Linked DNA regions of Homo sapiens. The protein of the gene in region 3 purifies or fractionates together with the protein of the main gene of each other region. This does not show direct contact. Each region holds a gene or a part of one and is shown on either strand. Other genes may lie near its edges. The genes, in order: EDEM2, PCOLCE2, OLFM1 and MANEA.

Evidence for each region.
Region 1: the proteins of OLFM1 (region 3) and EDEM2 purify together in Homo sapiens (affinity purification with mass spectrometry; 3 studies listed by BioGRID and IntAct, with this or other methods). This does not show direct contact.
Region 2: the proteins of OLFM1 (region 3) and PCOLCE2 purify together in Homo sapiens (affinity purification with mass spectrometry; 3 studies listed by BioGRID and IntAct, with this or other methods). This does not show direct contact.
Region 4: the proteins of OLFM1 (region 3) and MANEA purify together in Homo sapiens (affinity purification with mass spectrometry; 3 studies listed by BioGRID and IntAct, with this or other methods). This does not show direct contact.

Annotation. Positions count from the first base shown.
Region 1 is NC_000020.11:35,144,315-35,152,049, forward strand, and holds the start of EDEM2 (ER degradation-enhancing alpha-mannosidase-like protein 2 isoform 1 precursor), read right to left. Parts: upstream 3,023-7,735; 5' UTR 2,945-3,022; coding exon 2,838-2,944; exon of another isoform or gene 2,622-2,837; coding exon 2,511-2,621; intron 705-2,510; coding exon 665-704; intron 1-664. Other genes in the region: MMP24-AS1-EDEM2 (ER degradation-enhancing alpha-mannosidase-like protein 2), read right to left, coding at 665-704, 2,511-2,605. UniProt on the Homo sapiens protein: Involved in the endoplasmic reticulum-associated degradation (ERAD) pathway that targets misfolded glycoproteins for degradation in an N-glycan-dependent manner.
Region 2 is NC_000003.12:142,844,061-142,851,085, forward strand, and holds part of PCOLCE2 (procollagen C-endopeptidase enhancer 2 precursor), read right to left. Parts: intron 4,413-7,025; coding exon 4,157-4,412; intron 1-4,156. UniProt on the Homo sapiens protein: Binds to the C-terminal propeptide of types I and II procollagens and may enhance the cleavage of that propeptide by BMP1.
Region 3 is NC_000009.12:135,083,796-135,090,676, reverse strand, and holds the start of OLFM1 (noelin isoform 4 precursor), read right to left. Parts: upstream 3,010-6,881; 5' UTR 2,688-3,009; coding exon 2,538-2,687; intron 483-2,537; coding exon 333-482; intron 1-332. UniProt on the Homo sapiens protein: Contributes to the regulation of axonal growth in the embryonic and adult central nervous system by inhibiting interactions between RTN4R and LINGO1. Inhibits RTN4R-mediated axon growth cone collapse.
Region 4 is NC_000006.12:95,594,514-95,601,538, reverse strand, and holds part of MANEA (glycoprotein endo-alpha-1,2-mannosidase), read right to left. Parts: intron 4,803-7,025; coding exon 4,693-4,802; intron 1-4,692.

The DNA.
Region 1 (7,735 bases), on a different chromosome or scaffold from region 3:
ACTAGTCACTGATATTATTTCTTTATAATTTTTTTTGAGATGAAGTTTCACTCTTGTCACCCAGGCTGGAGTGCAATGGTGCAATCTCGGCTCACTGCAACCTCCGCCTCCCGGGTTCAGGCAATTCTCCTGCCTCAGCCTCTCCAGTAGCTGGGATAACAGACATGTGCCACTATGCTGGGCTAATTTTTTGTATTTTAATAGAGATGGAGTTTCACCATATTGGCCAGGCTGGTCTCAAACCCCTGACCTCAGGTGATCTGCCTGCCTCGGCCTTCCAAAGTGCTGGGATTACAGGTGTGAGCCACCATGCTCAGCCTGATACCCTTTTATTATCATTGAACATGGCCACTAGAATGTAAGCCTCTGAAAACAGGAGATGTCAAAGTCTCTGTATCCCCCATAGAGCTATGCAAGCCTATCACAATTCTCCGTACATAACAGGTCCTCTATAAATGTTTGCTAAATAAATGAATCTGCATAAGTTGTAGTTCGTTTTTCCCCTATCTAGCTAGGCAACCACAGCCGGACGCTTCAGAATCATGAGATGCAAATAAAAGGCCTAGGAGAGGAATTCATTTTTCACCCACAGTCACGCTGCCAAAAGAGGAAGGATGTTGGTTATGTAACAGTGGAAAGGAAAAGAAACAGACGAGATACTTACCAGCAAGGTGTCCAGTGCATCAATTAGAGTCAGAGAAAAACTGCAAAAGGACAGAAATCCCAGCCGCTTAGTAAGAAAATCAAATACCAGATATTATGGCTGCCCTAGATCTGATCCCCCTAAAACTAAATGAGGCAAAGTAATGCCTCTGCCTGTCCCACTTACAGTCACAACAGAGAAACCACAGTGAAAATCGCAGGTATTCTCTGACCCACTTAATGCACCTGGGAGGGTTGGCTGATGTAGCTCAATTGTAATTAAATACATCACCTATAGTCTGGCATTCTCCTCTACCATTGGGAGGCAGTATAAGATTGCAGCTTAAAGCACAGGCCTTTCACCAATTTTCACCTCTAGGAATTTAATTCACAGTGAACAGCTGTTTGAGAGTGTTCATGGCAGTATTGCTTAGAACAGCAAGAGGCTGGAAAGAACCCAACTGTCCACCCATTAATGGGTGATTAAACTGTGTTATAAACAGTGCAAAACTATGAGTTATCAAAAAGATTGTTATCAAGACTTCTATGTGCTGATGGAAAGACATTCGAATTGTTTTTAATGAAAAAGTCAGGGTGGTTTAGTATGTTTCCATCTGTTTCAAAAAGACATGCTGACAGAAAGCAGACAGCAATTGTTAGGGTCAGTGGTGGTGCAGGGATGAACTATAAAGGGCCACAAGGGAACTTTTTAAAGTGACAGAAGTGTTTCATATCTTGACTGTGATGGTGGTCACTTCAAACGAGTGTAGGCTGGGCACAGTGGCTCATGCCTGTAATCCGCCAGCACTTTGGGAGGCCTAGGTGGGTGGATCACCTGAGGTCAGGAGTTCAAGACCAGCCTGGCCAAATGACAAAACCCCGTCTCCACAAAAAAATTAGCCGGGTGTGGTGGTGGGCTCCTGTAATCCCAACTACTTGGGAGGCTGAGGCAGGAGAATCGCTTGAAGCCAGGAGGCGGAGTTTGAAGTGAGCCAAGATCACGCCATTGCACTCCAGCCTGGGTAACAAGAGCGAAACTCCATCTCAAAAAAAAAAAAAAAAAAAAAAGAGTGTATTTTATTATATGTAAATTATGCCTTTAAGAAGTTCATTTTAAAAAGATACACATACACACATCTATATATATAATGGTATAAACCAAGAATATTTCTGGACAGATACAAAGGAAAGTTAATAGTTGGAATTCTAGGGTATGGGAGATATTTATTGTATATAATCTTTTACCACTTGAATTTGCCATTTGTATTTACTTTGTTTCAACTTAAAAAAATAAAAACCATCACAAGTTTTGAGTTTAATTTCTCCCGACCTTAGCACATTCGTGTGTAAAACAGGGATAATGGCACCTAACTCGTAGGGGTATTAAGATACTGAGCTGAGATCTGAATGACAAGCAGCAGCCAGTGATGGGAGGAAAATGGGGAGTGTATTTCAGGCACGGGGCACACCAACTACAAAGACTTAAGTTTTAGGAGTGTCACACTCCTTCCTGGATCTGAATGCCCACCTACATAATGAAAGGGGTGGGTTTTCTAATTCTTGGAGCCCTTCCACGGTATCTCGTTACTCCAGAAATTGCCTATGTCCCCACAGCTGATGCCTGTTACTGCTGGGGCTGAGCTCAGCGATCCAGCCCACCCGGCTAATCCAGGACTTTTTTTTTCACTGCGAGAGGCTAAGTGGATCCTGGAGGTGATAGTAAGAATTGCGGGGAGCGCGGCTCTAGCTCAGCTGGGAGCTTTCTGGTGCCGGTGAGGAGACCATGAAGCCACCAGCCCCAGCTGACCCGCCCGCCGAGGCCCAGAGAGTCAGACCCTGGCCGCCCCTTGCCCCTCCGCTCGCACTACCTGCCCCAGGTGTCGTGCCCGTCACAGGTGAGAGGTCGCAGCTCATCGAAGGGAAAGGCATTCTCCAGGTAGCTGTCGTAGGCGTGGTAGAACATGGCCTTGACTCGCTCCCTGGGTGGGGGACGAGAAATCAGGCATGGGGCAAGAACACAAAAACAAGCGGGGGAAGAACAAGATACAGGGCGGAAAGTGGGAATCACTAGCTGATTTCTCCCTGGGACCTAGCGGCTGTGTCGGAGCAAGTCGGGGTCTGGGATGGACGGAAAGGGAAAGGACCGGGTTCACGCTTCCCATTCCCCAACTGCGAAAGGGCGGGTCACAGTTCACCTGTAGTGGGCGGGATCTGGCGCGGAGCCGTCGGGACCTGGCGCACCATGGTGCTGAGGCAGCAGCGCGCACAGGAGGCCGAGCGGGATGAGCAGCCGGAAAGGCATAGAGCTCGTGTCCTCTCAGCGCCCCCGCAGCAGCAGCAGCCACTGCAACCAGTTCATCCTGGGAGCTGCTGCGGGTTCTTCCGGGAATCCGCGCCACTGCGCCTGCGCGCTGAGAAATCAGCCTCTCACTTCCGGACTACAAGCCCCTGAATGCAATGGGCAGCGAAACGCGGCCGAAGAGCAACTTCGGATGTACGGTTTCGGCAACACTGATCAACGTGTCTTAAAGTCAGTGGCTGTTGTTACTACTGTTATTAATTAATGTTTTAATAATAACAGCTAGCATGTATTGAGCACTTATTGTGTACTAGTACTGTACGGAGCATTTAAAATGCATTCTCTCATTCATTTTTTTCAACAACCTTATTAAGTATGAAGGCAGGGTAAGCATGAGAAATGTTCAGCCTTTACCATTATTACCTAGCAGGACAAGCCGCAGACAAAACTCCTCAGACACCGGGTTAAAGAAGGAAGGAGCTTTATTCGGCCGGGAGCGTCAGCTGACTCACTTCTCAAAAACGGAGCTCCCCGAGTGAGCAATTCCTGTCCCTTTTAAGAGCTTACAACTCTAAGGGGGTCCGCGTGAGAGGGTCGTGATTGATTGAGCAAGCAGGGGGTACGTGACTGATTACCGGTGCACCGGTAATCAGAACGGAACAGAACAGGACAGGGATTTTCACAATGCTTTTCCATACAATGTCTGGAATCTATAGATAATATAACCGGTTAGGTCAGGAGGGGTCGATCTTTAATTACCAGGCCTGGAATGCATCGCCGGGCTGTCTGACTACTGATTTCACTTCTGTCTTTCTTTTAACTCCTACATTTTCTTTGAGGCAGAAATTGGGCATAAGACAATATGAGGGGTGGTCTGCTCCCTTATTTAGGGATATTGAGTTTCCCAAACCAGTTACTTGTTGATTGTATAAGACACAACTCACATTTATTTGTCCAAAACTTCCACTCTTTTTTTTTTAAAACCTCTTGCATTTTCCGATGCTGTCACTCTTGAGGTTTCCTGAAATCCCGTCAGTTCTAGGAATTCATGACACTTCTCTCCTCCCAATTTGGGATGTGGTTACACAATCATGGTCCCTTCAGTCTCCATCTCAAACCGGAAGCTTTACCCCTGTCAGCCCTGTAGAATGTCTTGGGTAAGAATGAATACCCTGGTTGGGCGCGGTGGCTCACGCCTGTAATCCCAACACTTTGGGAGGTTGAGGTGCGTGGATCACCTGAGGTTAAGAGATAGAGACCAACCTGGCCAACATGGTGAAACCCCGTCTTTACTAAAAATACAAAAATTAGCCAGGGGTGGTGGCGGGTGCCTGTAAATCCCGGCTACTCGGAAGGCTGAGGCCGGAGAATCGCTTGAAACCGGAAGGCGGAGGTTGCAGTGAGCGAGGATCGCGCCACTCCACTCCAGCCTGGGCAAAACAGCAAAACTCCATATCAAAAAAAAAAAAAAAAAAAAAAAAAAAAAGACAAATGACTACCCTGGGGCACTATAGCTTTCAGGAGGTTTGTGATCCATTTCTCCATTCCCCTTATTCCCAAGTTTCTAAAATTTGGTCAGCACCTTAGACCACAGCAACACCCATGACTTTGGTCAGTGTGACATGCGGTAGAACCAACACTGGATTTGAAGTCAGATCTAGGATCCAGTTAATTACAACTCTGTCACTCATCTATAACCTGTGTATGTGACCCTCTCCTTCTCTGGGGCTAGCATCCTTGTCTATAAATAATGAGGAGTTTGAACAAATGGATCTTTAAGATCCTTTTCGGTCGAGCTTTCTATGATTCTAGGATTGGCTATCTCTTATTTGCTGAAAAAGTCAGATGGAAGTGATAGCTCAGTTTGTTGAGCCAGAGTGCAGCCAGGCCTCCCAAAGTGCTGGGATTACAGGCATAAGCCACTGTACCCAGCCTGGGATGTTTTTAGAAACTCTTCTTGGCCGGGTGCAGTGGCTCACGCCTGTAATCCCAGCACTTTGGGAGGCCAAGGCGGGCGGATCACGAGGTCAGGAGTTCAAGACCAACCTGGCCAATATGGTGAAACCCTGTCTCTACTAAAAATACAAAAATTGGCCGGGAGTGGTGGCAGACGCCTGTAGTCCCAGCTACTCAGGAGGCTGAGGCAGGAGAATCGCTTGAACCCGGGAGGTGGAGGTTGTAGTGAGCCAAGATCAAGATCAGGCCACTGCACTCCAGCCTGGGAGACAGAGCGATACTCTGTCTCAAAAAAAAAAAAAAAAAAGAAACTCTTCTTGGGGCTTCCAAATGGAAGGGAAAGGAGATGACAGTAAGCTGAGACCTGGATAACAACACAGGAGCACTGTATTCGTTTCCTGTGATTCCTGCAACAAATTACCACAAACCAAGTGGCTTAAAGCAACAGAAATTTATTCTCTCGCAGTTTGGGAGGTCAGGAGCCTGAAATCAATTTCACTGGGCTAAAATTAAGTTATTGACAGGGCCACACCCACTCCAAAGGCTCTAAGGGATAATCCGTTCCTTGCCTCTCTAGATTCTCCTGACTGCTGGCATTCCTTGGCTTATGGTTGTATCACTCCAGTATCTGCCCGTGCCTTCATATCGCCTTCTCTGTGGATGTGTCACATCTCCTTCTGCTTTTCTCTTATAAGGACATTTATAATTGCATTTAGGACCCCCCCCGCGCCCCCCCCAACCCAGATAATACAGGATAAACTCCCATTCCAAGATTTTTAACTTAATCACATCTAGGGGGAAAAAAAAAAAAAAACACCATTTTTCCAAATAGAGAAACATTTACAGTTTCCAGAGATTAGGACCTGGACTTTAGGTGGCTGTTTCCAGCCTAGCGCAGGGACTAAATATTTTTCAGACCTGGGCCTTTCCCTGTGACGAAATTCACCTTCTCCATATTATAAATCCTATAGCTTATCTTTTTGTCTCCCATTCAAAATTCTAGTGTGGATAAAACTTTTGCAGGAAGGGTGGGTTCAGGTTGCCTGGATTTGGTAACGATAGGTCTCTCTTTATGAGCAAGATTGAAACACTCATGATTTTCCTTTATATTCTTTTTCTAGCTTGATGTCATTCTCCACACTGTCACTGAACAAATAAAACCATGACTTACGTTTTCACAATTCATGTGACTATATGTTCTCTAATGAGAATAAAAAAATTGTTTTACCCTCTGGAAAGTATCAGGACTCTTCTTTCTCTCACTCTGTGTTTATGATATTGGATTCTAGAAGGTTATGACCCACCAGTGAAGTGTCACACTTGAGCATTTACTTGTGAAGAGACTCAGGGTAAGTTGCCTACCTCTCTGAGACTCAATTTCCTATTGTAAAATACAGAAATTGATGAGGCCATAAAGGAATTCTGGGAATTAAATGGGATAATGAAAGTGAACATTCTCAGCACAGTGACTGGTATATATTAAATTCTTGATACATATTAATTCTCTTCCCTGCCTCCCCAACTCTTCTTTTTTTTTTAAGGCAGGGCAGTTGTTTCCATTTACTGAGCATCTGCCCCGAGTCATCCAAGGTGTTATAGGCAATAGTTCCTACCCTCAAAAGTTTGAGGCACAGTGCTGAGCATATAACTAAGATTCCAAAATAATCAAGTCATAGTCCTTTCCCTTGAAGTGCTTGCAATTTTGTTAGAAGGGGAAGATGTCAATTGGAGAATACTTGGAATCATAGGGTGTTCAAGTCTTCCCTGTGGGTGAATAGAGTTTGGAGGGAGCTCAGATCACATCAGTATCTGAGGCCAATGTCCTCGGACTCTGTGTTCAGTGGAACAAGACTTGGACTGGTTGTCGGAAACCCTTGGTCTTGTTACTTGTTTATCCACTATCTCTGTGTGATCTCGGGCAAGTCATTTTCCCTTTTGGGGACTCAGTTTCCATATCTGGAAGATGAAAGAGTGAGACTATCTCTCAGCACAAGGAAAATATTAACAGATCCATACAGTTATTGCAAAAAATCAGAAAACAGAATTCAACACACATCGACTGCACAAATTTCCCCCAGAAACATCCATGAAGCAGAATAAAACAGTGGGACAGCATTCCAAATGGAATTTGACTATTTGCCAACTAAACAAGGAAGAGGAGGGGGATGGGGAGGGGGACAAGAAGAAGAAGGAGAAAATAGTCACGTGTATTGATAATAGCGAACATTTACATAGCAAGTAATGTTCTTTGTACTTTACATCCATCAACACCATTAATCCTTACCACAACCCTCTGAGAAAGTGTCATTATCACCATTTTATAAACCAAAAACCTGAAGCACAGATTCTAAGAATTGAAGAAAGATTTAGCAACTTAATCAATGTCTCATACCGAATAAGTAGAAGAGTCAAGATATGGACCCAAACAGCCTATACTCTAACGCATTAATGAAAATAATGACAAATATATAAATAAAAGGCCAACACAGAATTCAACAATGGAGATCTGGCGAACTGCTACAGTGTCCTCTAGCTTTAGCTTCATGTGGTTTTAGGGTCAACATTTCCTTCCCTTTTGCTAGAAAGTTAGAGGGAAAAGCTCAGTTCCCTGAAGTTGGAAGCCAAGGCATTTTAGATCCCCTTTGGCCAAGTACACTCGACCTCTTTTAGCAGGGAAGAATCCTTTTTGTAGCATCTGGAGGTCATTTGGTTCTCCCAACTCCCAAAGCAGGGCTTGCACAATACATACTTTTGACTTGCCAAAAAATAAGTTTATCCCTGGGAAATTTCCCATCCATCTGTTGCTTTGTAGAAATGCTTGAACTTTGCATGCAGTAT
Region 2 (7,025 bases), on a different chromosome or scaffold from region 3:
TGTTTTTATTATTATTATTTTACAGGTTTTGGGGAGAGAAATTCACATACTCTGAAATGCACAAATCTTAGCTGTACAAATCTGAAAAATGGATATACCTGTGTAAACCACACTCCTATGATGATATAGAATCCATTTCCCACTAAATTTGTGCATCTCTTCCCATCCTGCCAGTTCTCTACACTACTTTTCTGAAAAACTTCCCATTAGATGAGTTTAATTTTAGAGCTCCATATAAATTTGTTTACCCATTCTCCTGCTGATGGGTGGTTTCTAGTCTGGACTATTGTGAATGAAGCTGCTATGAACAGTTTTGTACACATTTGTTTGTACATGTATCTTCATTTCTCTTATATAAATACCCAGGACTGCAACTGCTGGGCCAAGAGTCGATGTAAATATTTAACTTCATAAAAAACTACTGGAACTTTTCTCCAAGTGGTTTTACACCTCTCTCGAGTATGAACACTTCGGTTGCTTTACATCTTTGCTACCACTTGGTGGTGTCAGTTTTTCTAGCCAACATGGTGGGTAAGTAATGGCATCTCACTGTAATTTTAATTTGCATTTCCCTGATGACTAATGAGAGATACTGAGTAGTTTTTCATGCACTTATTGGCCATTCATATTTTCCTCTGTGAAGTGTCCAAGTGTTTTGCCAATTTTTATACTTACTGGAATCTTTACCTTTTTATCGTTGAGTTGTATGAGTTCTTTGTATATTCTGAATACAAGTTCTTCACCAGACATTTTTGTGAATATTTTCTCCCCTTCTGTAGGCTATTTGTATTTGTAACCATGTCTTTTTATAAGTATTAGTTTTAATTTTAATGAAGTTTTGTATTTTTCCTTTTACTTTCAACCAACTTGGTCTTTGTATTTCAAGTGCTTTCTTGTAGACAACATATAGTTGGGTCTGGCTTTTCAATCCATTCTAACAATAACTGTCTTCTAATCAGAGTATTTAATAATTTACATTTAATATATTTATTGATCTTCTTGGATTTAATGTGCCATTTACTACTTTTTTCTATTTGCTTTACCTTTCTTTTATTCCATCTGTTTTTCCTTATAGCCTTCTTTGGGTTAGTTGGATAATTTTAGTATTCTATTTTAATCTTTTGGCTTTTAGTGATAACTCCTGCATTTTTAATGGGTTCTCTAGGGATTATAATATGCATGTTTAAGTTATCAAAATTTACTTAGAGTTAATATTGTACTTCACGTGTTGTATATGTATGTGCAACAGTGTAATTACATTTATGTGTCCATCCTTTGGTTGTCAAACATATTACATCATACACTATATATTCCACAACACAGTGCTAAGGTTTTTTTGTTTTGAACAGATACATGTAAAGAAATTAAGAGAAGAAAAGAAAATAACATATACCCTTTTATATTTACTATTTCCAATGACCTTCATTCCTTCTGTTACTTTCATTTTACAAGGTCATTTACCTCAACCTGAGGAATTCTCTTCAATATTTCTACCAGTGTAAGTATAAAAATGCCTTTCAGAGATTTTTAGTGTTTATCTGAAAATGTCTTCATTTTACTTACATTCTTGAAGGCTGGCTATAGAATAGAGGTTGACAGTTTTATTCCAGCGCTTTAAAAATACTGTGACAGGCCAGGGGCGGTGGCTCACACCTGTAATCCTAACACTTTGGGAGGCCGAGGTGGGCAGATCAACCTGAGGTCAGGAGTTCGAAACCAGCCTGGCCAACATGGTGAAACACCGTCTCTACTAAAAATAGAAAAATTAGCCAGGCATGGTGGCGCATGCCTGTAATCCCAGCTGCTTGAGAGGTTGAGGCACAAAAATCGCTTGAACCTGGGAGGTGGAGGTTGCAGTGGGCCGAGATAGCACCACTGCACTCCAGCCTGGTCAACAAGAGTGAAACTCAGTCTCAAAAAAAATACTATGACACTGCCTTCTGGCTTCCAGTGTTTCTGAGGAAATGGAAGCCATCATTCTTATCACTCTTCTTCTGTATGGAATTTAGTTTCATCTGATTGATTTCAAGATTTTCTCTGTCTTTAAATTTCTGTAATTTAATTATAATGTGCATGGGGGTGCTTCATTTTTATTTGTCCTGTGGAGTTTGTTGACCCTCTTGACTCTATTTTTCTTATTTTCATTATTTATTTTTTAGATGGAATCTCGCTCTGTTGCCCAGGTTGGAGGGCAGTGGCGCAATCTCGGCTCCCTGCAACCTCTGCCTGCAGGTTCAAGCGATTCTCCTGCCTCGGCCTCCCGAGTAGCTGGGATTACATGAGTGCACCACCATGCCTGGCTAATTTTTTTGTATTTTTAGCAGAGACGGGGTGTCACCATGTTGGCCAGGCTGGTCTTGAACTCCTGATCTCAGGTGATCTGCCTGCCTTGGCCTCCCAAAGTGCTGGGATTACAGGCATGAGCCACTACGCTCAGCCCCTCTTGACTCTGTGAGTTGATATTTTTCACTGTATTTGAGCAGAGTCAAGTCATAATATCTTTAAATATTTTTTCACTTTATTATCACTTTCTGGGACAAAAATTACAGATGTTAGACCACTTGATATTGTCTCACTGGTTTCTCGAGCTCTTTTTCTTCAATCTTTTTCCTCCTTTTTCTTCAGATTGAGTAATTTCTATTTAAGTTCACTGACTCTTTTTTTCTGCCATCTCCCATCTACCTGTGAGTACAATAGGTAAATTTTAAAATTTCAGATCCTGTTTCTTTTATCTCTAGAATTATTAATTTATTTTTTAATAGTTCCTGTTTCTCTTCTGAGATTCTCAATTTGTTTATTTATTATGCACATATTTCCCTTTATAAATCCTGAAACAAACATGTAATAGCAGCTTTAAAGTACTTGTTTGCTAATTGCAACATGTGAGTTACCTTGAGATCAGTTCTTATTGACTGCTTTTGTCCTTGAATAGGGACACACTTTTCCTGTTTCATTACATAACTACAGACTGGACATTATGCATGATACATTATACTCTAGATTCTGTTGTGTTCTGATAAAAATAATTTTGTTCTAGCAGGCATTTAACTTGGCTAGACTCAAACTTAAAGTCTGTTTCCCTGGCAGCAGGCAGCAGCTGTAATCTCTTTTCAGTTCTTTCATTTTTCAGCTGATGCTTTTGTGCCAGGCCAACTGGGCTCTCCTCCACATATGTAGAGTTTAGCTGTCAGACAAAGATTTCAGTAGATTTTATACGAATATTTTGTGCCTCAATTCTGTAACTCCCTGCCTGGATTTCCTCCCCAACATTCTGGCTGCTCTTTCAGCCCCAGATTCTGTCCTCTGACCTTTCAAGTAAAAATGTTGCACTACAGTCCAATCCAAAAGCAGATTATGGACTGCTCTTGGGTAAAAGGCTGAAAACATACAAATATTGCCCACTGCAGTGATCTTTCAAAAGTAGAGATTTCTACGCTTGGGAGCTCACTATATCTCATATATCTGTGTGTGTGTATATATATATTTGTTGTTGTTTGAGACAGGGTCTCAACAACACCCAGGCTGCAGCACAGTGGCATGATCACGGTCACTGCAGCAGTGACCTCCCTGGGCTCAGGTGATTCTCCTACCTCAGCCTCCCAAGTAGCTGGGACAACAGGTGTGTGCCACCACACCCAGATAATTTTTGTATTTTTTGTAGAGATGGGGTTTCACCATTTTGCCCAGGCTGGTCTTGAATTTCTGAGCTCAAGAGATCCACCTGCCCTTGGTCCCCCAGTGTTGGGATTACAGGCATGAGCCACCATGCCTGGGCTCCACTTTTATTTTTTAAAAGCTATTGTATAAGTACTCAAATAAAAGCAAGCACACATAGAAAGGTATGGGAACCACTGGCCATGGCTATTTCTGGAGAATGGACTATGGAGTGGTGAAGGGGTGTGTTTGCATATTTGCATGTGTGCTTATGTATGTAAGCTCCACATTTTTACTCTATGAATTTCTATACTTGATTTACAAGAATGCATGTGGACTTAAATTAAAAGGCTGATTTTTTGTATTGGTCTCATCATGGTTTGATGGCATTCACTAGCTCTTTGAGAACCACTCTTAAGCTTTAAAGGAGTAAATAAACATCAAGTGCCAAGAACAGTGAACCAACATTACTGTTGTTATTGCCATTATGTGGAAACAGTACCTCTTTCGTTTGGTTCAGCAGCGGAGAACATGGCCATGAAGCCATTGCCAGCTGTGTTGGCATCAGAAATCATCTGCACCATCATCTTGTTGCCACTGGACACAAGGGCTCCAGGCCGGAAAGTGCCACAGAAGCGGCCAATGCGCTGGCCATTGGCATGGCCATTGTACACATCCACAAAGTCATAGCGGCACAGGTTGTCACTCTCGAGGTCTATGAATCGGAAATTGAGAACGACTACTTTTCCTTCGGGAACCTGCCAAGAAAAGCGCCAATTAGAAAACTGTCATGAAAACAATATCTGAGGCTTTGACATCTAGTCACTTACTTAAGTGTGTAAAGTATAATATCCAAGATAATGCTTTTTCCTCTCTCATATCTGAACTAACCCAAGGGAAGTTTTCTAGCATATTGCATTCCTAAAAAATTTAAGTACTTATTTTCTTTTGACAAATTCTGCAATTCTCCAGGATTCACAATCTTATTCCTTAAGAACTTACCTCAACAAAGCTGCAAAATATTAGGTCAGTATTATTAATAGATGAGTCATTGCTTAGAATGAATACCAGTCCTGATTGGACCTTAGCATATATTTGCATATTCTAATACCTAGAGATATTGCTTAGCAAAGAAACATTTAAAAATATCATTTCTTGGCCAGGCACAGTGGCTCACATCTGTAATCCCAGCACTTTGGGAGGCCGAGGTGGGCGGATCACAAGGTCAGGAGATCGAGACCATCCTGGCTAACACAGTGAAACCCCGTCTCTACTAAAAATACAAAAGATTAGCCGGGTGTGGTGGGGGGCGCCTGTAGTCCCAGCTACTCGGGAGGCTGAGGCAGGAGAATGGCGTGAACCCGGGAGGCGGAGCTTGCAGTGAGCCGAGATCGCGCCACTGCACTCCAGCCTGGGTGACAGAGCGAGACTCCACCTCAAAAAAAAAAAAATCATTTCTTACAAATAATACAGTAGGACGCATTCAATGCCTGTGTATAGAATGTTTCTATGAAGTTCAAAATAGAGGATTTATTTGGCAATTGTGTAGTTAATTTACAGATAATTCATTTTGGGTCCTGAAACATCCAGATGAACTACCGATACTGACTAAATGAACTGAGTAATTGCTGAATCATCTCTTCTGAATGTCACTAAGTTTTTTGCTCATTTGTTTTCCAGGTGAAGACTTTATATGTCAGGAAGCCTTGAGACACAATGCGCTAATGAAGAAAAAGATAAGCTTTCATTTTATCATAATATTTTATTCATCATAATTTCCCCATAAAATTCTTAATGATGGTTCCTTCCTTATTCCCTGAGTAGGTAGAAAAAATGGCTATAAAAGCATTTGGTAGGATTCTCAGGTTACCAAAGCCCCATTTCTTTCCCAGTTCATACCACCTTTTAATTTCTTCATTCAAGTTGTTCAGTCATAAAGTCTTGATCATAATTGTTTTACTCCTTTAATCAGATGAGGTCTCCACTGAATAGTGGAGAATTCCATTCTGTAAAAACTTACATATAACAAAACTCAGTGATTAAAAAAATCAAACACACACAATCAAAAGTGGTTGGTTTATATTCATCTTAATTAACTATTTCAGACTCAAGGGTCAATAGATGCTTTGACATTAATACGGCTTCCCCATGTTGGTAAGTACAGTGCCATACGTTTTATTTTCCTATGGTAAGATGAAGTGTTTTCAGTGCTATTTGCTTTTTGTGTCAAACACATCTACACTTCATCGTAGAAATTATAATGGCGTAGTTCCCAAAAGGGACATGTTTGGATTTGCCATCGTTGCATTCTAATTCCTAGAAGCTTGTCTCAGTGGTGTGAATATCAGAGTTCCAAAGAACTTAGAACAGCTTAAGAAGCTAATAACAGAAAGAACAATTTAAATTTTAAACATTATCACCAAGATGTCTGTTGTAAAACTTCCTGTCTTTTGCTTTGTTTTTTGTTTTGCACACAACCTCTATTTGTACAATAATCAGAAAGTTATCAAAATATGATGCCACATCTGTAATCTTAAATATAAGCAGGCTCTCTATGAATCACCGAAAAAGTCCTAGCCATGAAAAGAATCTCAAACTAATTTGTTTTTTTCCTGCATGAATAGTGACTATTTGTATAAATGTATAGAGGGTAATTCAAAGCTACGAAACTTGATGAAGTCACTCCCAGAGTGAATGTGGATAGAAAAAGGAAGAGGTCTAAGTATAGAGGCCTGGAACACTCCAATGTCATCAAGTCTGTGAAGAGGTCAAACCACAATAGAGACTGAGTCAACAAGTAGGAGGCAACCAAAGTGTGTGGCGTCTGGAAGCCAGGCGAAGAGAGTATGTCAAGGAGGAATGAATGGGCAACTGAGTTAAGTGCTGCTGCTGAGAAAGACCAGTGGATTTAGCAACACAGAAGTTTAGCAACCAGAAGTCACTGGTAATGCTGACAAAGCTGTTCTGGTGGCACCATGGGGAGAAAACTGGATAAAAGGATCATGAGAAAATGGGGTGAGAGGAAATGGTGACAATAAATATAAACAAGCTTTTCAAGGAGTTTTGCTGTGAAGATGAACAGAATAATATGGGGGTAAGGAAGGGGATATGGGGTCTAAGCAGAGTTTTTGCAATGGGTGTTTCCTAAGGCATGTTTGCATGCTGATGGGAAGGATTCTGTAGAGAGGGCAAAACTGATGAAGCAAGAGAGAGGGAGGATTGCTTAACAGATGTCCTTGAGCAGGCAAAGGGGGATCTGATCTACAGAAGGAACAGCTGGTGGAGTTGGCCTTAGTAGGAGCAGGGACAGTTTTGCCCAATGACAGAAGGGAAGACAGATGTAGGTAGGTCAGTAAATGAGGTGGTGAAAG
Region 3 (6,881 bases):
TGCCCATGTGACTTCTCAGTGGAGCCTGTGGTGACAGGGGGCAGGTCTAGTCCTCTCTTCCTGGACCACCCTTGGAAGTCTCAATCCACCTGTGTGTCCACCCACCCATCCACCCATCCGTCCATCCATCCACCCACCCATCCACCCATCCGTCCATCCACCCTTTCACTCATTCACAAATATTTTGAGTGGAGACAAACCAGGAAAGAGTCAAAATGGGGCCTGCAAGCTAGCCAAGCCTTGGTGCTGGTGTGAGCACACAGGCATGTACACACACACACACACACACAAACACACACACATACAAACTCACACACTCTGCGCAGACTCACCTTCTCCAGTAGCTGCCTCAGCTGTTTTGTGCGGGCATCCCGTGAACACATGGTCTGCTGTGGAGCGACCACTGTGCAGATACACCTGCCCTCGCTGTCCTGGGCAGAGCTGTACACCTGCCAGCTCTCCTCAGGGTTGGTGGGCAGCACCTGGAGAGGGGCGGGGCGGGAAGGGAGAGGGAAGGAGAGAAAGGGAGACCATGAGGTTGTGTATCAGAGCCAACAACCAGGGGAAACTGTCCACATCCACCCCCAAGGAAAAGATGGGAGGAAATGGTCCCAAGACATGTTTGACCCAAAGGGAAGAAAGGGTCCCTGGGAACAAAGAGGCACAGGTCTCCTGTTAGGGGGCTCAGGGCTGGAAGGATGTCAAAGAGGCAAGACCCTTTACGTTCTTAAAATTTAAGTTCAACTCAAGGGATGTCTGGAGTTTGTCGTCTGGCCAAATTGATCTGCTGGGTGGATGGGAGGGGCAACTGGAGGCCACAGGCTGGACTAGGAGCAAGGCAGGAAAGCAAACGCTGGGTGGCTTGCAGCGGGCACGTATTTCAGAAACAGGATATCCTTCCCGTAAGTCAAGCACGGGTGGCTGGCACCACCAAGCCTCGCCCTGCCGTTCCCTGACACTTGCAGACGAAGCACCCACTGTAACAGCCCCAGATCCAGCAGCCTATTCGCCCAGAGCTGTGATGAACCCCGAGCTACAGCAACCTCCCAGCCGGCAGCGTGGCACAGACCGACCCGAGAAAACACTAGGTTTCCAGCTCCTTGTGGGCTCCCCCCACGAGCCATTTGGTGGAGGTCGCCAAATTGCTGGTGACATGCTGTGCAGGGGTCACCCCCAACCTCAGTCCTGAGGTTTGCCCAAAGATCACCAAAGAAACCGGAGCTGCCCATGTCTGGTCTAACCTTGCAGCCCAGCCCTGCCAGGTACCGGGGCGGGCACTCCTGAGCCTACACAGCTCCATCCTGCTGCTGGCCCTACTGTCTCTGAGCACGCTCCCCTCCGGTGGCATCAGGTCATCTCTCTGCTATTTTTAGCATGAAGATGGGGAGGAGAAGTTGGGCGGGTAGAATCTATAGTAGTCATATCTTTAATCTCATTCATTCCCAACCCCAGAAGATCGGGACCGGCAGGCCGGAACAAAGTCATCATGGAGGAATCGCCCTCCGATTCCTGAAGGAGCAGGGAGGGCGGCCTCAAGAGGGGTCTTAGGAGGGAGCCACACCACGGAGCCCTCTTCGCAGGGCACTAAACCCCTGGCAGCAAAAAGAGAGAGGGAGGGAGACTCACGTCCTTCACCTCTCCTTTCAGCCTAAAGGGCCAGTGGTCTGGGGCGCGCCTTCCCGGCAGCGGCCCCTTCCCCGCGCGGCCCTCCGGGTGGCGGTTTCAGCTCAGCCTCGCTCAGCCATCTAAGTCAGCTCTGCCCAGAAGCAGCCCCGGCCACGGTTCCCCTCCCGCTAGGCTCGAGAGGGAGACGCGATTTCAATTTCAGAGGCCAGGAGGGAGGGGTGCGCGCAGAAGACGAAGGCAAAGGCGAGGGGGTGAGCGCCCAAGGGCAGGCTCCCAGGGGCCCCACCCAAGCCCCTCGGCACCGTCCTCGGAGGAGAAGGAACAAACCCTCCTATGGACTGGGGAGGAAAGGGCGCCTTGGGACTTTGGGAATGCAGGCGCGGGCAGGAGCTCCGGAGCCCACCGGCTGGGGCCCCACTCCCAGCCCGGTCCGGCCAGTCTGGCTTTTACAAACTAGGGCGGGCTCAGTCCCCGCTGGACCGAGCCCAGACTAGGGTCTAGCGGCGGCTCCACCCCTCACTCGCTGAGTGTGACCTTGGACAAGTCCCCAAGTCCCCAGCCTTAGTTTCCTAACCTTTTCAATGGGGGGCTCATGATTACTGACCCAGGACTCCAAGCCTCCGAGAACCCACCAAGCTCCCCCGGCCCCGCGGCGAGGGGCCCAGACGAAGGAAACGCCGCCCCAGGGGCGCGCGGGCGGAGATGGAGTGGCCCAGGCTGGGGGAGCGGGGAGCAGGGTCGCCACCGCTGCGCCGGCCCGCGACGCCTGCCCTTGCCCGCCCTGCTCCCCGCCGCCTCCCTGGGCGACTCGGGTCCCGCGCGGCGCCCGCCCAGCCCGGGGCTCCGGACCGAGGAGGGGGAGGAGGAGGAGGAGGAGGAGCCGCGCCAAGGCGGCCGGCGGGCGCACTTACGCCGGTGCTGCGGTCCAGCGTCCCGCCGCCGGCCGCCGAGAGCTTGGTGGTGTTGAGGCCCACCAGCGAGGGCAGCGTCTGGGACATCCAGTTAGTGATCATGGCCATGGTGCTCAGCACGACCCCGATCTTGAGCAGCGGCACCGACATCGCGCCTCGAGCTGCCTCCAGCGCCCGCTCCGAGCTGGCACCGGCTCCCGCGCCCAGGCGGCCTTCAGGCGGCGGGCACCGCGGCGGGCAGGGGCGCCTGGCTGTGTCCCCGCGCCCCCTCGGCCCGCCGCCGCCCGCCCGCCGCCGCCGCCGCCCCGCGCGCCCCGGCCATCGCCGCGCCTTCCCCGGGCGCCAGGGAAGGTGGCCAGGTGGCCTCTGCCCGCCGCGCCCTGCGCCTCGCGCCGCCCGCCCTGCGCCCTGCCTTGCCCGGCTGCGTCCCTCCGGGCTCCTCCGCCGCCACCGGGAAGCGCCGTCCGGCTCTGAGCGCTGCGCGGGCTGCGCGCGGGGGCCGCGGCCGGGAGGCGGGGCTCGGCCGGGCGGGACCGACGCAATCCGCCCAGGAAATGGGTGGATTTTTCCTCTCGCTCGGCTCCCCGCCGCCCCCTGGCTGCTGGCAGCGAGGTCTGCAAACTCCAGTCCGCCCAGGAGTTGGGATCAGGGTGACATGAGGAGACGGACACACCACCACCCCCAGATCATAAAATACCCGGCGGCGGCGCGGGGACTCCAGCTGGGGGCACGGCCCGCGGCCCTCCCGTCCCGGGGCTTCTCCCATCCTCACGCCGGGGCATCCCTCTCCGATCCCCGCAGAGGGTCCGCTTTGGGGCAAAGGTTGCCGGCAGAGAGACGGCGCCGTCCTGCCTACTGGAGCCCTTTTCCGCGGTGATTCGAGGGTCCCAGCCAGCCTGGGCCGTCGCCTGAAACCCAGCAGGCAGGGCAGGCTCCGAAAAGCAGCCAGACTCGCGAGGGCCTCCAGCGCCAGGGGGGCGTCGGGGCATCGGTGGAGAGCTAAAGGCGCCCCTGCGATCCCAGGGCAGCCGCGGTGCCCTAAGGCCTTGCTTGGGAGGAAGGGAGCCAACCGGCACTCCTGACACCTGCACAGCAAGGCGGGGGCTGGGGTGGTCTGCCGTGGCCCGCGGTGCGCAGTGAGGGCCCTGGGAGGGCGCACACCCGGCAGGAGCTGCATAAGGTCTGGGGCTCAGGCCTGGACCTCAGGAGCTGAAGGGACCACGCCCATGAACCTGGTGTTGGGGAGGTGGGTGTGTGGGGCGGGGACTGGGGTCTGTGGTGGAGGGGTGTGGGTTGGGGGGTGTCCTTACTGACTCAGGGGTGGCGCTCGAGTCATGGCGCCCAGGCACAGAGGCAGGGCAAGTGGCGCACGCTGCCCCTCTTCCCGGCCCTCTGCGGCGACCGCAGCAGGACTCACGCGTGTCAGTCCCACCTGAAGCGCAGGCCTGACTGGGTCAAACACGTTAATAGGGCTTTTGCATTTACAGAAGGCTTCTAATCGGAGATGAAAGCCACTTCCTCCGGGGCCTTCCATTAAGCTTTCCCAGCCATTTGGGAAGGAAAGAATCCTCCAGATCACTCACTACACTCTTCTCTGCCTGGGCGAAAATTAATCTCCCTTCCTGGATGGGATTTGAAAGACGGACGCCGGGCCGGAAGGAGCGCGCCTCCCTGGCGCCCGCCTGAGAGGAACAACGCCTTCCTGGGGCTTTTCTCTCTGTGTGCGCAGTCCTCGGCTGAAGAGACTTCAGCTGCAGCCAAGATGATCCTGGCCTGAGTGCTGGGTGTGAGACCCGCTAGTTAAATGAGCCCCTCAGATCTGCTTTTCTGATTAATGCTGTAATCTCAGGCAGCCGGGCTGGGTCGGATGCCAGGAAATTCCAACTGTTGGGGAAGGGCGCCATCTCCCAGTGTAAGCTGGGACTGCAGGCCCGGCTCACAGACTGGGCCCAGGCGGAGACACAAGTCCGGTTGGGCTGGCTTCGCCCCCCTCCTCTGGCCATGCATGTTTAACACCGATTCAAGGCCACAAGCCGTGTCTGTCCAGATCACTCACGCCGCTTCCCGCTGCGGAAGGACAAGGACCACTTGTTCTGCGGGAACAAATTCAAATGCAACCCAATCCAATCCACAAAACTGTCAGGCCATCTCAGAAGCCATAGACATTTATTTATTTAACGAAGTAAAAGATTAACCTGCACTTGGACTGCTCTAACCTGCACCTGAGCGGCTCCAACCTGCACCTGAGCGGCTCCAACCTGCACCTGCTCCAAACTGTCCTGTCCAGTTTCTAAAATCTGTGATTCAGTGGGCATAATGGTTTTGAAAGGGTCGTCAGATAAGGCTTGAGTAAGTGTAATTGGATTTAGAAGGCCATGGAGCATTCCAGAAGGAAAGTATGGATCGTTGAAGAATGAAGGCATTTGGATTAGGGGATCCATGGCGCCAGGCAATACCAAGTGTTCCTAAAGAGGACTTTCAATCCCAATTTCTTCACGACTTCTCTTAAAGCCAGGGCTCATCACACCTGCAGCTCTGAACAATCATACGGATGCTGATGGGGCAGGTGCTGCGCCCCTGGTGGCACTGGGGCTTTGCCATGCCTGGCACCCAATCCTTACTGAAGTGCATGGTGTGGTGGCATTGACTCCACTGTATAGATGAGGAATCTCAGGCCTAGAAAGATGATAAGACCTGTCCAAGGTCATATGGTGACAGCCTATTTCCAGGGCTAAGCCCATACACATGGTGGCATCCTCGTCTTATAAATGTCATGGCCATAGTTAAATCTCACGAGCCCCAGAAGTGGCATGAGTTGCATGGCCACAGCAGCCCTGGCTGTCCGCACAGTTCCACGAGCCACAGAGGCCGCCAGAAGACATTTCATGGGCCCTTGCCTTCCACGCTCGTGGGAAGGACAGGAGGTTGCCCACCCCTTTCTGAGTCCTGGCACGAGCCTGCACCACCCTCCCTGTCATGACAGGTTAGAACAGCCACGTCTCTATCCTCATGCCAGCCCCCTACAGGCCTTGACCTTGGTGGACTCTGTACAAATTCATCAACACACATAAAAACAAGCACACCCCCTCTGCATCTCCCGGCTTCAGAGCTCAGAAGACGCAAGTGTGAGAGGGTGCTCCTGCCCAGCTTGCTATAGACCTTACAAGAGGCGGACACACGTGGGCTATTGGGGAATCACCTCGAGAAGCCCTAGGACAGCCACATGGTGAGCTGATAGGGCACAGACGACACCAACACCCACAGTCAGACGACCACTGACACCCACAGTCAGAACAGTGAGGTCCGCAGGATGCAAACCTACTCAGGTCCCAGAGCCAGGAGTGGCTGCTTGGAGGGAAGCAGGTCTCTGGGCCACTTCCCGATGCTCCTTGGCAAAGGATGCCCTCAAGGGACAAAGTTTGGATGCCCGGTTGCTGTTTAAAAATACGCATACTCTCCTCAGGCTATTGGCAAATATCTTGAAGGGAAACAAGGGGAGGGGAGGAAGAAAGGGAGGGAGAAGGGGAGAAGAAGAGAGAGAGAGAGAGACAAAGGCAGAGAGACAGAAAGACAAAGAAACAGAGAGGAGACAGAGAGGAAGACAAAGAAATGGAGAGAGAGACAGAGAGAGAGGAGAGAGAAGAGAGGAGAAACAGAGAGAGGAGAGACAGAGAGAAGAGAGACAGAGAGGAGAGATAATAGAGACAGAGAGGAGAGACAGAAGAGAGACAGAGAGGAGAGATAATAGAGACAGAGAGGAGAGAGAGAAGAGACGGAGAGAGGAGAGACAGAGAGAGAGATGAGAGACAGAGAGAGAAGAGAGAGAGAGAAGAAAGATAGAGTGACACAGAGAGAGAAGAGACACAGAGAGAGGTCCCACATGGAGCCACCTCTCCTTTTTCTACGTTGTATGTAGCTTTTTCATTCCCTTTCTGTGCTGGAACATTCCAGGAGCAAGGAAAGGACCTGGCCTCAAGCCAGGCAGAATGGGAGGAGCCACAGGTCCCCTGGGCACTCCCTCTCGGCAGCCACAGAAGACCAGCATGGGTCTTCTGAGCCAAGTGTTCCCTGTACTCCCCTCCTCTGAGGCCTCTGGGTTCACACATGGGTGGAGGCGTAACTGCTCCTCACCCCCTTCCCTGGAGAGGATTTCCATCCTGGCCCGGCTCCCTGTGCCTGGCAGCACCTCCCATAAGCTGACAGTCTCCCAAACACCACCTGCATCAGGCGTGGCTGTGTGACCTGCGATTTTGGCCCCGGGAGGGAGAACGGCTAAGGGCCACGACTGAGCAGCTTTCAGAGCCAAATGTCTCAGTCACACCCTGTCTCTCTGCCTCTGTCATG
Region 4 (7,025 bases), on a different chromosome or scaffold from region 3:
ATCAGCTCCACGTGTCTGTCATTCTGAGTCCTAGGCAGAAAGGGGCATGCTTTTCTTATAAAAGAGAATAAGAGCATAATCATGCAAGCACATAGTATACATTATCTCTTCTCACATCTCATCAGCCAAAGCAAGCCATAAGGCCAAACCCAACAACAACAGGGCAGGAAGTATACTTACTCTTTGCATGCAGGGGAAGGAAAACCAGATTATTTGCTAAACAATGACGGAATCTACCAAATATTTCTGTCATGTCTTACTCAAAAAATTGTTCCGTTGCTGTGTTCTTAATGGTGCAGGATATAGAGGAAGGAATCCAGCCCTGATTTTTACACTCTCTGCAAAACCAGCCTACTAAATGACAGTTATAAGTGCAACAGCCTTTGCTCTAGCAAACATGCAGACAAGTATACTTTAAAAGAACAGAAACTAAATCGCTTTGAAAAATCAAGATTTAAATTTTAGTTTCACTCATTTACACTTCCAAAAAAAAACCTAGTCACATTTGCTAAAGATAATGAAAAATAACTAAAGCACCAATCATTTCCTTTTCTTGCATGTTTGTTTATAATTTAAAAGGCACTTACTTAAAATAACTCTTGGTTGAAGTTAACAAATCAAAATTACAATTACAAAATATTTAATGACTAATATTAGTAAAAACATTATATAATCAAAATGAATGAACTATAACAAAAGTTTAACTGTGAGACGGATTCATTCCCTAAAAATTCTCCATCCATTTAGTATTTCCATGCTTTGAAGACTAGCAAGAAAAAAGAGATGTTACTAATGAACGCATTTTACACTTAAAAGTTTTAGATGTGGTCAGTTATGTGCATTGGAGGCTCCAATTTGTCAGCACACAATCTACAACATCATTAATCTTTTCCTATCAGATTGCCTTAGCACACTGAATAATTCTAGTAAGGTACTGTCATTCATTAAACATATTAAAATTTCCTTATATTAGCAAGAAAAGGGAAAGTTTTCCATTCTTTAAAAAAACAGGATTTACTGCATTTTATTGAGTTAGGAAAAATGTCTGTTCCACAACAACAGAAATCATAGACAAATCCAATAAAACTATCTTATGGTTTCATTGTCATTGTACAAATGAAGGGGATAAGCCAAGAAGATCAAGGAACTAATATAAGATTCCAGAGCTACTCAGTTAGAACAAGCTCCAGTCTCATGATTCCAGGTCTATTCTTTGTCTATACATAGTTCCTCACCATACACGAGGCCAAGAAACTGTTCTAAAAATTTTGGAAAACATTAGTCTATCGTGTTCCAAGTTTTTCTGATCATTAGATATAAAATCCCTAGCACAGAGAGATCAAGTATGCTGGCAACATTAAATAGGCAATTAGTGGTCGAGCTCTTTGCCACACTCTCCTTCTCTACACAGACACTTTAAACAGGAGAAAAAGCCAACCAATCCTCATATATCATAACATTTTCATTTTCTCTTTCAAAACTTCCTGAAAGTACTAAAATAGCCAGTTTCTTGAGCTTCCATCTTCCAGGATTTTGGCAGGGCCTGGACAGAAAAGCAGCTCTTGGGCTTGTTTTGTGGAAGATAAATCAATCACTTACCCAACCTCAGCCTGGGCACCAGAACCTGGAGGCTTGCCTATTTGCAGATTTCAAATGCCAATAAGAACTCACTGAAAGGCACCAAGGGACATGGCAGGTGACAGCTCTTGCTAGACAGCTAATTTGAGAGATGCTGTCTTAACAGTTTCAGGATAGTAAATCAGAAAGAAGAGGCAGCTTTATGGACAGAAATAAAAAAATGCTTGCCTATTTAGCTCTTTCTCACTCCCTACAGTTCCATTTCTATTCTCCAATAACTACTCAATCTCTAGGCTGCAAAAGGAAAATTAAGACAAAACTAATGTTTCACATTTTTATTTGAAACGAAATATTTCAACAGTGGTCCATAACATATCTTACAGGGCTCAATTACCAGTATTGGACAAACCAGATTGTCCTCCATTAGAATATAACTGCAAGAAGTTACAGAGCAAATAAAAAGCTTCAGCAAATTTTAAGAGTGGTTGCAATCTCAGAGTGGTCTCTAGTTAAAAGAACCTACATCACTTTTTTTTTTTTTTTTGAGATAGACTCTCACTCTGTCGCCCAGGCTGGAGTGCAGTGGCACCAATCTCAGCTCACTGCAATCTCTGCCTCCCAGGTTCAAGCAATTCTCATGCCTCAGCCTCCTGAGTAGTAGCTGGGACTACAGGTGTAGTATATCCATCAGATATAGTGTTTGAAATAAGATACTAAGAGACACCCTTTATCAAGCTAAAGAACTTTGGTTACTAAGGACTTCATTAACAATGAATTTTTATTTCCTAAAATTTTCAGTATCTCTTAAGATAACCATGTTTTACCTTCTTTAAATAATCAATGAAGTTTTATTTACTTAGTGCTTACTCTGTGCCAGACAGCAATCTATGTTTTACATATATTATCTAATATAATCTTTATAACCATTCTGTGTGTAAGGAAGGTTTTGTTGCTATTTCTATTTTAGAGATGAAGAAGCTGAGACACAAGTCATTTATAAAGCTACAAGGTGGTTGAGCCAGGATTGAATGCAGACCTGAATTTAGATTCAGATTTCATATGATTGGAACCATTCTTAAATCCTTGCTAATAAACACTTCTTCTCAAAATTCCCTCTAGGAATTTTGAATCTATTTTCATTGGTAAGATTAGTCTGTCTCTTTCTTGTTCTATCCTTTCTTAGTTTTAAATAAAAATTGTGCTATTGTGGAATAAATTTGGAAGTTTTCTGTGGTTGCCATTCTTCAAGATGGCCCCCCGATACCCATCTCCTGGTATTCATAACTTTGCAGTTCCCTCCCACATTGTGCCATGGTTGTTTTATCCGTAGATAAAACAACAGAATGGGACAGAAGTATTAACACGTCATTGCCAAGATTTATGTCAAAAAACAAAACAAACAAAAACAACCCTGTAGCCCCTATATTAGACTCTCTCTCAGATCTTTCACTCTAGTGAAGCTGGAGGCCCATATATAGAAGTACAGAGTCTCCAGTTCACCTGCTGCAAAGAACTGAGGTCTGTCATCCACCACATGAGAAAGTCTGTTAGTGGATCCTCTAGCCTCAGATGACTACAGCACCAGCCAATAGCTTGCCTGTAACCTCCTTCAGAGACCCTGAACCAGACACTCCCAAATAAGCCACTTCCAGATGCTTGACCCTTAGAAATTGTGTGAGGTAACAAATGTTTATTGTTTTAAGCTACCAAGTTTTGGAATAATTTGTTATGCAGCAATAGATAGTGAGTATACTTGACACTGTATTTCAGTTATCATAAAAATCAACTATTCTGAATACAACTGAGAGGTAAACCTGACACTTTGGGGAAGACATTTGTTCAATTATCTTTTATACGTTTTTTTCTAGGATAGTCAATTCAGATTCTTTAAACCTCTTTCTGCACCAAAAAAAATTAATTTTAGTATTTTCCTATAAAACTACCATATAAATTTTAAATAGACTGATATAAAATCTTAAACTCTCTTCTGAAACTATAGGTATATTTCTTTTCAATTTTTGCTGATATGTTTTCTCAATTTCTTTTCTTTTTTAATCTCACCAATGGCTTGCCTATTGTTTTTTCCCCAAAAGTGGACAATAGTAAAGATTAATTTATCCAGACTACTGATTTTGAAGGACTTGTATACTATTTAATTAATTTCACACTTCATCTATCATAGTTCTTTCTTCTACTATGTCTTATTATTTAGGTCCCATTGGTATTGATAATGCAATAATCTCAGTGCTATTTATATCACTTAAATTTCAGAGTTATTCTCAATTATGTTATTAAAATTTTAATAATTTTATACTTTCTAAATGGTTTGGACTTAATTATTAACATTCCATGGTACTGAATGTGGTCAGAGAATGCAGACTCTATGGTTATAATTTTTATGAATTTATTAGAATTAATGTTGCTACCTAATACATGACCAATTTTTAAAATGTATCTTTGGATATTAAAAACAGTGCTTATTTACTTGCTATTCAGTATAAAATTTTCTTTTGTAGTGCTATTTAAATACTTTTAATCATCACTCCTATTTGTTTCCATGATTCATTAATTTCTAAAAGAAATAAAATCTTAAGACTGTCAGAAGTGTTCCCTCATTTGCAACACACATTAATTTCTGCATCAAATATACTTGATCTTTCTGCTGTATTCTATATTTACTCAGGTGTGTATGTGTATGCACATTAAATAAGGTTTAAATGAAAATTGGATTTTGAAAAATATTTGAGCAAGTTTATTTTTTAACTACTTTATAAATATGCAAAGTTACATGGTTAATACTTGTTTTTAGATTTTTGACATCTAAGATATTTAGACATATAAATCTTCACTACTATATTATCTTCACAAAAGAACCTTTCAATCCCTTTCTACTATAAAAAAATAAAACATTAGAAACATAGTAAAGAATCTCTAAAATATAATTTAGATAAGATTGAAATTCCTATTATAGAAATTTTCTTTATGAAATATAGTATTTAAAAGATTCTAAGTCATTATCATTTTTAATTAAAATTACTATTTCAAAAATTGTTATTACTCTCCTCTTGTCCAAAAGAATTAACTTATGTATAGCTTGAAAATAAAATAAAATACCTTTAGGTTATATTTATGAGCTTTATCCAAAATAGTGGGTACCAAGTTATCAGTAGGTTCTCCATTTTCATCATTTACATCAGGTGGGTACCAAGAGAGGGCTAGTACACCTAATAGAAAAGACCAAAAAGAAAGGGAAAAGACAAGAACATGAATGCAGATATTCTTAAAAAGGCACAGTAAGTACCAAAGAGTTAACAATAGAAGAACATATTTATACGAGGTGGTTTTGTTAAGTTCCTTCAGAATACATATGGCTATTTGATCACTTTGTCAATATTTATGACCTCTTTATCAGGCATTAATAAGCTTTTGTAAAAGTGAACAGACTTTACATTTTAGAGTAAGTTTTAGGTTTACATAAAAATAGCAAAGAAAATATGGAGTTCTCATATACTCTTCCTCCTACCTGCCCCAACCCTCCACACGGTTTCTCCTATAATTAACATCTTTCATTTGCTACAATTGATGACCCAATATTGAAAGATTTTTATTCACTAAAGTCCATAGTTTACATCAGGGTTGACACTTTGTGTTGTACAGTTCGACAGGTTTTGACAAATCTATTATACCATATGCTCTCCATTAGAGTAGCTGAAAAACTAGTTTTACCAGCTCTATAAACCTCCTGTGCTATACTGATTCATCCCCGTTCCCTCTCCCCCTCACCCCTGCCAATAACTAAGCTTTTTGCTGCCTATAATTTTGCCTTTTCCAGAAGGTCATATAGTTGGAATTACAAAGTATGTAGCTTTTTAGAACTGGCTTCATTCATTTAGCAACTTGAATTTTTAGGTTCCTTCATACCTTTTCATAACTTGATAGCTCATTTCTTTTTACTGCTGCATAATATGCCATTGTATTTATTTTATACATTCACCTAATGAAGGACATCTTGGTTGCTTCCAATTTTTGCCCATTATGAGTAAAACTGCTATAAACATTTATATGCTGTTTTTGTGTAGATCAATACCTTTTAACAGAAGATTCTAACATAGTAAAATAATTACTGTTCCTCTCTGTAGTGCCTGCCTACTTATTTTTGAACTGATAAATTATGTGTTAGAAGCATAAATTACATGAAAATCACTAACTGGAGACGGAATATTTAAGATGAATTAATTCAAAGCCTCATTACGTATACAAAGAAATGGACAGTCATTAGAAAGATTGCACAAATTTCTAGATAAATAAACAGACTCTTTAAGGCAGAGAAATAAATAATAATGGTACCAAAAGAGAAGCATATGGAAATTAAGAAATTGAAGGTAAGAAACTGCTGGAGAACTAAATTTTAAGACCTAAGTTTTGTGCTAGCCGCCATGTACAAATAAGTAAGTCCCATCTAGGACAACAAAATCAAAGTTAATGGAAAAATAATCCTTATGTCCCCTATCCACTCTGAAAATAAGAATGGCAACTAGAACGAAACATAGAAAAAATAACCTATAACATATGAGGCTTTAGGGAAACTGGCTAGCCAGAGGAAGGCATATCCTAGAGAGAAATGCTGGTGAGAAAAGTGTCTGGAGACAATCCAACATTTTATAAGCGATCACTTACAATCTTGTAAGATTACTAGCCCAGCTTATAAGAAGAATATCACCAATGAAAATAAGAATGACAACAAAAAGTTTTCTCAACATGGGACCTACGAAAAAATTATTTTATGCAGAAAATGAAAGGAACAAAATAAGAAAAAATATTAAACAACAGAAAGATTATGCTATGAATCACATGAAAATTATAAGCAAAACATTCTTCCATAAAAGTAAAAACAAAACAAGATTCCTGTTTCTAATAATAGCAGACTAGTCTAAAATAACAGTTGGTCTAATAGTAAACCAAGCACTCTCCATGAAAATAACCATTATTATTATATAAAACACGGGGAGAAAATGTCTTAAAGAGCTGAAGAGAGTAAGAAATGTCCTGGCCAAATTGAAGGGAAAATGTGAAACCAGAAAGATAAGTGAGCAAGGAGGTCTGTTTGCCCCAAGCAAAATTGGTACAAGTAAACCAACTCTCAAAAGCAGTGAATTAAACTGCAGGTTCACAATGCTTGTACAATCCTCTAGCTTTAGACCTAATTTAAGGTAACCAGAAATGGTATTCTAAACAGTCACCAGGCAGAAGCAAAAGAAAATCCTTTCTGGAGGAAGGCATCTTCTTCCTGGGCCTCAAATTATTTACAAAAAGTATTTCATAAAGAACAATAAATAGTATACAATCAAAGATAATTAAGAACACAAAGAATAAAACACCATGCACAAGAATTGGCAGAAACAAGACAACAGCAACATGCAACAACTTCAGGTATCGCCATTACACAC